Linked DNA regions of Homo sapiens: region 2 is linked to region 1. Evidence: fine-mapped expression QTL. Tissue or cell type: tibial nerve. Region 1 holds a variant in brackets; the other region holds the start of a gene. All regions are shown on one strand. Distances are from middle to middle.

Region 1 (5,682 bases):
AGACCAAGCATGATTCTGTGAAAGTCCCTGCACCTCAACCAACCTTCGCACCCACCCTAGGAGCCACCCCGTCCAGCTCAGCTGGCCCTGCCCTTAGCAAGGAGAGCACCCACACCTCACAACCTGCCTGGAGCTCTCCCCTTAGCCGAGCCCCTCCCTGCCTCCCCTCCCTGCTCCTGTAGGAAGTAGTTGGTAACCCTCCTGATGGCTGGTATGTGCCTGGCATTGTCCTGGGCACTGGAGAGACAGGGTGAGCAAAAGCAAGGCAGCCCTTGCTCAGGTGGAACACATTCCAGTGGAGAGACAGAGAGTGAGCACTGGATGGAAAGGTGCTGTGCAACCTGGAAATGGAGAAATAGGGGGAAAGTGGGGAGGGGCAGCTCTAGGTTGGCAGGTCATGAAAGGGCTCTTTGTAGAGAGGATATTTCATCTGAAACATGGAAACAGAAAGAAGCCAGACGACCCATGCAAAGGCCCCACGCAGAAACAAGCTTGTATTTCAGCAGCAGGTGCGGAGGCCAACAAGCCTGGAACAGAGAGAGTGCAGAGCATGAGGATGAAAGGGCGGCACAGGCTGGACCATGCAAAGCTTTGCCAGCCAGCTGAAGCAGGGAGCTGGGACTGGAGGGCTCAACCAGGGCTGCAGTACACGTCCTGGTAGCCAGACACCTTTCAGAGTCCCCACAGTGCCCCTTAAGCCACCAGGTTTTGGGACCTAGAACTGTCTTTCTGCAATGTAGTTCAAAGGGCATTTGTCTTGCAATGGAACAGACCCAAGGTCAAATCCTCAGACCACCACTCCCTGCTGTGCAACCTCAGGCAAGTTGGTCAGCCTCTCTGAGCCTCAGATGGTTGTCTGTAAAGCAAGAATAAGGATGGCAGCTCTGCACAGCTGAGCTGTGATTACATAGAGTGCCATGCATGAAGCACTCAGCACTGGACCTGGCACCAAGCAAGTGCCCATTCAGCATTAATCACCTCCTACCTCTATGCCAGGAGAAATGAAATCCCCAAGCCAGCTAAAGGCTGGTTCCAATAAAAACATCTCACTCCACCCGGAGCAGAAGTCAGCTCTCCCAGCCCAAGCTGGCAGGCACATCCCTGGCAGAAAAAGACCTTCCAGAGGCTGCACCTGTTGTGACTGAAGAGAAAGTCTGGGCCAAGGGAGCGGCCACAGCAAGTGGCCCTGCATGTGGGGAGAGGCTAGTCCCCACTGAGAGCTGGCACAAGGATCCAGGCCAGCTGAGGCCCCCAAGATTATGTCCCAGGAAGTGCTGTCCCGGCTGAGTGGGCCTGCAGCCCTCACTCTACTTGTCCTCACCCAGGAGAACATACCAATGATCCCCACAGCTGGCACTGTGGTCTCACCCTGTGCTTGGCACTGTTCTAAGCACGTCTCCTGAATTAAGTCAAGGTAATCCTCATGACGACGCCCCAAGAGCTCCTGTCATTATTCCCCTTATGTAGGTGAGGAAGCTGAGGCTCAGGACCAAGTGAAGTTGATGTACAAAAGCCACCCAGGACAGCAGCTGGCCCTACCACTGCCATTATTATTATTATTATTATTATTATTATTATTATTATTATTATTATTATTGCACCAACAGATTTGGGTGGACCTAGAGGGGAGAGATGGTGTCCCAAAAGGAATAGGATCATCATCACATTCAAGGAAGTGTCATGAAAGTAAGAGAGGCGTCTGGTTCACTGTCCCATATTTGGGGGAAACTGAAATTAGTGAAGAACTTTCTCCCAATCAGGGATGTCTTTAACTTGACAAGGAGTGAGTTGTCACTGAAGAGACTTGGCAGAGGGGGCTTTGGACTGGGGTAGGTTACTCCCCTTGAGGTTGCTCACACCTCAAGGAAGGAGGATCCTTGCCCATTGGAGGGTGGTGCCCTGGGACCCTGCAAGGTTGCTTGTAGCAACACCTGACTTTGTTTTATTTGGGGGTATGGGGCAGGAAGCCAGTGTAACTGGAGAGGAACAGAAGGGTGTGAAGGTTTTGGGTCAGGAATGTGGGCAGAGGACTGGCTGAATAGGTTGGGCCCTGGCTTCCCCATCCTTGGTGGGCCATCCATGCTCACTGTTGCCTCCCAATCTGGCCAGCCACCTGCTTTGGGAATGGATAAGTCACCTGGTCCCTCACCCCATCTTCTTGAGCAGGGGCCTGAATGGGGGGCTAAGAGCACGGGAGGCGCATCTCTACCCCAAAGCGCCTGGCTCACCTTTTTCTGAACAAAGTCCATGATGTTTTTGAAGTCCAGATCATCATAGTAGTTCTCAATTCCTCTTCGAATGTTGTCGTTCAGGAAGTCAATGGTCTATTCAAAAGGAGAAATTACAAAGGAAAAGAACCACACACTCCCGGAGTCCAACCCAAGGTTTTCCAGAAGCCTGGATGGGTAGAGAATGCCTTGTGCCAATGCAGCTCGCGCCCAGCCAGCATGGAGCCCCCTCCACTCCCCACCCTGGATGCCCGTGACCTCCCTACCCACACATCCTCCCCGTGCCTCCAGTGTTCATCTGATGCCTGAGTGCCTGTGCTATGTCCCAGCAGGAGTAATTCACTCCACTCCCTTTGCAGACCAGACAGCCCAGGCCCTGAGAGGCTGGGGCCGTGCTTGGGGACACACAGCTCTGATGCCGCCATGCCTGAGCTGAGACCTGGCTGTCCTGGTTCCAGGCCCAGTGCTCTTTCTACCGCCCAGGGATGGGCCCACGCTGGAATCTTCCCTTTGCCCTCCAGAGCCCCTCTCCACACTCCTCCACCATCCAGCCTCTTGTTTTACAGATGAGGAGCTCGAGACTTGGGGAGGGAGTGAGGTCACAGAGCAGGCTGGGTGGGGTCTTGCCAGGACTGGAATTCAGGTCTCCTGACCTCCCTCATGGGCTGTTCTCCTCATCACTGCAGCACTCGGTCCCCCTCGGCTAGGGCTGGGACAATCCCTGCCGGGAGGAACATGGCAGGCCGCCCTCTCCCAGTCACGCTGCGCTTTCTGGATCAACAGCCCGGCTGTTGTGCTGAGACCCAGAAGCACAAAGGGCCCCACAGTGGGAAGGGGCGGGGGCAGGAGCGTGGGCAGCCCAGCTCACTGTAACAATCGCAGCTTTCAGAGCACGGAGGTCGAGTATCAGCAGAGACTGGGGAC[G/A]AAGGGGGCATTCTCGGCTCCGGTGCCAGACTGAAGAGCCAGACAATTCCCGGGGGTGGCACCACAGCGTACGCTGGGACAACAGGATCCTGGTTCCAGGCCCCATCGCGGCTTACTTCTCCTCTCTGGGCCTCAGCTTCCCAACTGTGAACCAAACCCGTAGGCCTATCTTTAAGGTAACTTCGAGCTCTGAGAATCAAAAACCAAGTCTCAGAGGGGCTGTCAAGCCTCATAATCAAGGACACCTCCCTACAGCCACCTGGGCCTCCGCTACTTCTTTTAACTTCTGAGCCTCTGTTTGCTCACCTGCAAAATCAGGAGGAAAACACTCTCTGCCTCATAGGGATGTTGTGAGATTTAAATAAACAAAAGCTGTGAAGGTGTTTAGCAGGACACCAGGCACATTGTAGGTCCTGGTGTTATTATTCAAGATTTTTGTCTGTTTTTAAAGGAGACAAATACTCTATGGTACTACTTCACACCCACGTCATTGGTGGAAAACAAATCCCGTGGGAAACCGAGGCCCCAACTCTTGTTCAAAAAACTGACTGCAATGGAGGCAGCCTCTGAGGCACGAGTCCTGGCCAACCCCACTCTCACAACACCCTGCAGCCCAGAGAGCGATGTGGCTAGTCCGAGGTTGCCCAGCACACCACTGGCAGAGAGACGCTGGGACCAGGGTGTCAAACTCCCAGCCTGACACACTTTAAGGTGCTAAGAAACCAAGGTTCAGGTTTGGGGCCATCTCCCAAAATTATCTCCAGGATCAGGAAAAGAGGAACAAAGACTGCAGCACCCACCTCCTCCCCGAGCCTCGCTCTGCTCAAAGCCAAGGTAAAGAAGGAGATGGAGGCCTGGCGCGGTGGCTCATGCCTGTAATCCCAGCACTTTGGGAGGCCGAGGTGGGCAGATCACCTGAGGTCAGGAGTTCGAGACCAGCCTGACCAATATGATGAAACCCTGCCTCCACTGAAAATACAAAAATTAGCAGGGCGGCCTGGCGCAGTGGCTCACGCCTGTAATCCCAGCACTTTGGGAGGCCAAGGCAGGCGGATCACAAGGTCAGGAGATCAAGACCATCCTGGCTAACTCGGTGAAACCCCGTCTCTACTAAAAATACAAAAAATTAGCCAGGCGTGGCAGCGTGCGCCTGTAGTCCCAGCTACTCGGGAGGCTGAGGCAGGAGAATCGCTTGAACCTGGGAGGCAGAGGTTGCAGTGAGCCGAGATGGCACCACTGCACTCTAGACTGGGTGACAGAGCAAGACTCTGTCTCAAAAAAAAAAAAAAAAAAAAGGAGATGGGCTCGGAGAAACTGGCCTTCGTGGCCAGAAGGAAAGTCCTCTGCTGATGATAAACAGCAGCTCTGGAGCAGGCCTGGGATTGCAGAAGACTGGAGTCAGCCCCAAGAGAAGAGAGGAGATGCAGGCTCCTGTGAGCAGCTGTCAACTCACCAGCCCATGGCCCTTCGCGGACCTGGCACTGGCCCCCGGGGCAGAAGTTGGGTGGGAGCATTGCCTTCCAGCCGAGCAGCCTGGGCAGAACAAGGACTCTCTTGGCCCCAGGCCCACCTCCCAGAGGCCCCCAGGTCACAAAGCTTTTCCATCCTTGGGTGCCTGCTCCTCTGGGTGATGAAGGGACAGGCCAGCTGGCTGGGGTGTGGTTGGGGGTGCCTAAAAAACAGGATACCAGGGTGGGGCCAGTCTGCCACCCAGGGTGGGGCAGGGGAATGAGCTTACAGCACTGAACGACATGATTGGCTGAGCTACGTACTCATGGGGTGCCGCCAGGGTCAGGGCCTTGCCTAAGGCCACACGTGGGGAGGTTCCTCCCGGGTGGCTTCCCCCTACTCTCAAGGCACCACAGACACAGTCCTGGCCCACCATGTCCCTCTGCACCTACCCGGGCCCACTGGCCCACTTACAGCACCCCCACTGGCCACTGTGCTGTTTGGACTCTCCCAGGGCTGCCAACAGGGTGGGATGAAGGTGGGAAGCCCAGGGCAGGAAGGAGGGGAAGTGGCAGAGTAGAGGCTGCTCTGTGGCTGTGGGGAAAGGCTCTGCCTCTCTGGTGAGCAGCCCCAGCCTGCCTCCCCAAACCATCCCGCCTCCCCAAACCATCCCGCCTCCTGGGCACTTTCCAAGGCTCGGGCTTCGAGAGGGGCCTGGAAAAATTCGGCCTTTCATCTGGTAAGCTGAGCCCTGTTGTTGGGGGAAGGGGGGCCCTGCAGGAGCAACAGATGTCCCTGGGCTTCATGGACAGCAGCTGCCCCCAACCCCCATCAGGGAGCTCTTTGAGGCATGCTGGTTCTTGCAAGTGTGCACCACTTGTATGTGTGTGCACGTGTGTATGTGTACCGGGGAGACGAGGACACTGAGATGGTTCCTGTGCTGTGAGGGGCGATGGTTGGGGGTGGGTGTGTGTGAGAAGATCCCGTGAGGCAAGCTGGCTGTGCAGTTTAACTGTAAAGTGCTATGCCGCCGTTGACAGCACTGGTAATGTTCCGAGAGACCAGGGGAGCCACTCAGAGG
Region 2 (5,000 bases), 44 kb after region 1:
GGTAAGGCAACCTCAGTTGGCAGAGGAGGGATTCCAAGTTCTGAGAACCACCCTGCCCAAGAGAAGCAAGGCAAGGGCCATTGGGTGGGCTTCTCTGGGGGCTGCAAAGGACAGTGACAGAACAAAGCCTTAAAAATTAGAGTTCAGTTTTATTTAACTGCATGAGGTATGTTTGTACTGCACTGATTTTGCTCATATGTCACTCTTTCCCCATATCACTAATCCTAAAACAATTCAGTGAGGTACAGGGCAGAGATTCACTTATTCATTTTATAGATGAGAAAATGGAAACGTGAGGAGGTAGAGAGACTGGTTTGTGATTATATATCTGGGGAAGGGGTGAAGCCCAAAATACAACTCCATCTTCCTACCTCCCCACCCATCAACCTTAGGCTCTTTCAACTCTGATTTACAGAGAGAAGGGCTCACAGAACACACAAGGGGCAGGCACAGAAATCCTGGGGACTTAGGGGACCTATGAGACCATCTAGGGCAGCAGTTTTCAATACTGACTGCACACTAGAATTACCTTAATTCTAGTAAGTAATTTACTACAATTAAGCTTATGTAAATTTAAATAAATACCTATGCCAGGGCACAAGAATCTGATGCAACCGCTGATTTATAGCTCAAATCACCCCCACTCCCATCCCACATATGACCTTCTGTCTCCCTAGAGCTTCCACCAACAGGTCCTTGCTCCATCCTCCGCCCCCCAAACATACTGTTCATCTCTCCTCCACATTACCTAGAGTCAGAGAATTGGATTGGAAACTGGCCTCAGACTAGTCTTCTAGATGGAAAAGTCAATGAACAGTTCTGAGGCCCAAAACAGGAAAGTGACTTGCCTAAGATATCCATAAGTCAGTAACAGAGCTGAATCTGGATCTCCGATTACCAGGCAAGGCCCCACCCACAAAGGGGTCACAGGGAAAGCCAGTCCTGATGGCAAATCCAGCAGCTCCTGCTAGCAGAAGAGACCCAGCAAGGGGCTAAGGAGGACACCAGGGGAGAGTGTGTGTATTTGGTGGGAATGGGGTGTCAGTGACCACCCTGGGTCCCTGGGCAAGTCTGCTCTTGTGGCATACTGCAGGCAGAGAGCGATTCTGGAGTGACAGGGGCGGAGCTGGCCTATAGGAAGATATCCTCATCTCTAGAATAGGGCCCAGCCTAATATGAAACGCCCTTACAGAAACCCAATCTCTTGGGGCAGCTTACACCACAGGTGTCCAAATTCCCTGCCCACGATAGTAATAATGTCTCACACTTCTTGAGCTCTTCACTAGGCACCATACCCGGCCTATTTCACGTAATCTCCGCGAGCATCCTACAAGTTGAATATAATTACTGTGTCCATTTACAGATGAGGAAACCATGGCCGAGAGGAATGAAGTAACTTCCCCAAGATCACTCAGCAAGTGCTCATTTCAGAAACGCACAAACTGAAATTGGAACGATACAGAGATTAGCAATGTTTTAAATAAAAAATAAAATATAAAATAAAAGACCACTCGGAGCGACGGAATTCAAAGCTTGGTTCATGTCTAAACACTACCATCCTGCCCCCTAACAAGGCAGAGGAGGAGGTAAAGCCCAGCGACAGCGGAAACTGAGCACCTAGGTGTGCAGGAGACGTCGTCTGGTGGACTTCTCCTCGCCACGCAGGAGGCACGTGCATCCACCAAAGAGGAAACCAAGACGGAGCGGGGAAGCGTCTCGCTCAGGGGCATCAGCAAGTAACTAGCAGGGACCAGACCCGGAATCCAGGTCTCCCAACCCCGACTGCAAATCCTAACTACTTAAGCTCCACAGGCCGATGCAGAGGCAGTCAGTCCTACCGGGTAGGCGTGGTGGGCGCGGCCAGCGCGTTCACCTCAGCCTAGCCAGCCGGCCAGCGGACGCACAGCGGGCAAACCGCCCAGCCGGTGCACACAGGTGAGCCAGGTGGCACTCGGTCGGTCGACAACCGGCTCTCACACTCCCGAAAGGGCGGCTGAAAATTCAGGCTGAGCTCTGGCCGCCCGAATGTGAGGTAGAAAGACAAGGAGTCCGCGCGCGCTCACCCGCGCACTCCCTGGAGCGGCTAAGTGTGGACCCAACCCCGGGCCAGTGAGGGGGCGGCCGGATTGTGGGTCCCCACCCCCATCCCCGGGCCCTACTGGGGTCACTCACCCAGAACACGGTGGAATAGATGATAAGTGAAAACTTGAGCCAGAGGTAGGAGAAGCGCGCGCAGTAGCGCACCTGCTCCGAGTCCCCGCGCGGCATCCTGGGCGCTCCCCGCGCGGGTTACGGGGGCTCCGGGGCTCTCCGGCTCGGTCCCTCAGCCAGCGCTCGTGGCCCCACCTGCGGCTGCCGGGCTACCAGCCCCGCCACCGGCGTTCTCTCCGGGACTGACACTGGAGCGCGGCAATCACAGCCCCAGCCGGGAAGCCTGCCAGCCCTGGCGGCCAATGGGAGGCCGCGGCTGCCTAGCGTCTGGGAGGGGGCGGGCCAGGGGCGGGGCTGCTGCCCTGGGCCCTAGAGGGGACCAAGAAGGGATGGGAGGGGGAGACGGTCTTGCAAATGAGCTCGCGTGCAACTCTGGAAACGCCTGTGCTAATGCAGGGGGCGTGGGAGAGGTGAACCAGAGGTGCTCTAAGGAGAGAGCGAGCGTGCCTAATCGGGGTACATAGAAATGCAAGCTTTCCTCTTGTCAAGAGGGAAAACTTTGGGAAAAGGGCAAGAATTAATCGCCCAGGTGTTGAAAGTGCAAATGAGTGTGCTAAACGTGAATGGAATAAGGAAGTGGAGTTGCTCGGCTCAGGAAGGCTCAGGGAGGCAGACCAGGGTGGGGCTAATAGGCCCCCATGGAGCTGGAGTCTGAAGTTTGCTCGTGAAACAGATCTGCTGAAGGCCTTCACCAAACGACCTCGGAAGTCCCCTTCTTTTGCCAGGTGATAACCCAGCCTTGGGAAGGGTTCCTCCCGGGAAACCCCATCTTCAAACTAGGTTGAAGGCCTGGCGCGGTGACTCACGCCTGTAATCCCAGCACTTTGGGAGGCTGAGGAGGGCGAATGGCTTGAGCCCCAGGAGTTCAAGACCAGCCTGGGCAACATGGCAAAACGCCGACTCTATAATTAAAAAAAATAAAAAGCCAGGCACGGTGGCGCGCCTGTTGTCCCAGCTACTTGGGAGACAGGCGGGAGAATCGCTTGAGTCAGGGAAGTCAAGGCTGCAGTGAGCCGTGATTGTGCCAGTGCACTCCAGCCTGGGAGACAGAGTGAGACCCTCTCTCCAAAACAAAAACAAAAACAAGGCCGGGCACGGTGGCTCACGCCTGTAATACCAACACTTTGGGAGGCCAAGGCGTGCGGATCACTTGAGGTCAGGAGTTCGAGACTAGCCTGGACAACGTGGTGAAACCCTGTCTCTACTAAGAAATACAAAAAAAATTAGCCGGGCAGGGTGGTGCATGCCTGTAGTCCCAGCTACTGGGGAGGCTGAAGCAGGAGAATCGCTTGAACCCGGGAGGCGGAAGTTACAGTGAACCGAGATCCCGCCACTGCACTCCAGCCTGGGTGACAAAGGGAGACTCCATCTCAAAAAAACAAAAAACAAACAAACAGAAACTATAGGTGAGGGAGGCAGCTCCCTCTCTTGCACATAGCCAGCCACTAACCCAGCCTCCTCCCACCTGGCCTTTTCTCAGCCTGGGACCAGAGGTGGCTGTGAGCCTGTCTCTCATGCTAGATGGTCCCAGCTTTACTCACTGTTGTTTCCTGTCTCCCAAGCCTAGCTCAGCCTGGGACTTGGGAGCCAGACAATCCCTGCTGTGGCCTTCAGTAATTAAATCCATGGCAGAGGTCATAAGCTCTAGCAGTGCTGGGTGGGGTCCCTGGTGGTGATTTCAGGAACGACACTCTTATACAAGTCCCCAGTCCTGGGTTCCCAGGGCTCCTGCATACACAAACTCAACAGAGAAGGACAGACTCAGAGACTTAGTCCAGGCTGGCTTTAGCCCCCAGAGCTCTGCCCTAGGAGGAAGAAAGCAAGATTGGGGGGTGGGGAGGGAGGCAGTGCCATGCCTGGAAGGGTAAAAGGAAACCAATTTCCTGGTACAAAACAAACAAACCTTGGGAGGATGTTTGTGTGGGGTAGAGAAATAGAACCAGAGCCAGGCACAGTGGCTCATGCCTGTAATCCCTGCACTTTGGGAGGCCAAGGTGAGAGGTTTGCTTGAGTCCAGGAGTTTCAGACCAGTCTGGGCAACGTAGCAAGACCTCATCTCCACTGAAAATCAAAAAAATTAGCCAAGCATGGTGTCTCGTGCCTGTAGTCCCAGCTACTTGGGAGGGTGAGGTGGGGGTATCACTTCTCGAGCCCAAAAGATCAAGGCTGCAGTGAGCTATGATTGTGCTACGGCACTCCAGCCTGGACAACAAAGCAAGACCCTGTCTCAAAAAAAAAACAACAGGGAAAAGAAAAGGTGGAAAGAGAACCAGAGAGTAATGCAAGCTGCCCTCAAATGATTATCTGAGGGCCAAGAAGGCATCTTACCATAGTGTTAAAAGTTGTCCATTCTGGCCGGGCGCGGTGGCTCACACCTGTAATCCCAACACTTTGGGAGGCCAAGGCAGGGGGATCACTCGAGGTCAGGAGCTCAAGATCAGCCTGGCCAACATGGTGAAACCCTGGCTCTACTAAAAATACAAAAATTAGCCGGGCATGGTGATGGGTGCCTGTAATCCCAGCTACTCGGGAGGCTGAGGCAGGAGAATCACTTGAACCTGGATAGCAGAGGTTGCAATGAGTCAAGATCGTGCCACTGCACTCCAGCCTGGATGACAGAGCGAGACTCGGTCCCCAAAAAAAAAAAAAGTTGTCCTTTCTGTCCTTTGAGGAGGAAGACTAACTTTTTATTCCTCTTTGAGGGCTAGAGCCTCCACCCAGCCCTGCAGAGCTAAGTCCACACCCATTATTTGAGGTGCTAGTCTCTTCCCCACCCATAGAAGCTTGGA

Evidence for each region. PIP is the estimated chance that this variant, and not a neighbour inherited with it, causes the effect.
Region 2: TSPAN15 starts here. The variant in region 1 is fine-mapped to the expression of TSPAN15 in tibial nerve (GTEx, PIP above 0.99). The same link has a PIP of 0.9 or more in amygdala, caudate, neural progenitor cells, nucleus accumbens, putamen and spinal cord.

Annotation. Positions count from the first base shown.
Region 1 is chr10:69,492,236-69,497,917 of GRCh38, reverse strand. TSPAN15 (tetraspanin 15) reads right to left here. Exons shown (of 8, transcript NM_012339.5): 4 at 2,229-2,324. Among named protein-coding and RNA genes, the nearest start is that of TSPAN15, 44 kb to the right of the region's middle. The variant G/A (reference allele first, on the strand shown) is at 3,153.
Region 2 is chr10:69,448,863-69,453,862 of GRCh38, reverse strand. It overlaps TSPAN15 (tetraspanin 15), which reads right to left and starts at 2,398. Exons shown (of 8, transcript NM_012339.5): 1 at 2,173-2,398. The coding sequence starts at 2,268. RefSeq lists enhancers at 1,378-1,878, 2,670-2,809, 2,759-3,376, 3,377-3,995 and a silencer at 2,240-2,549.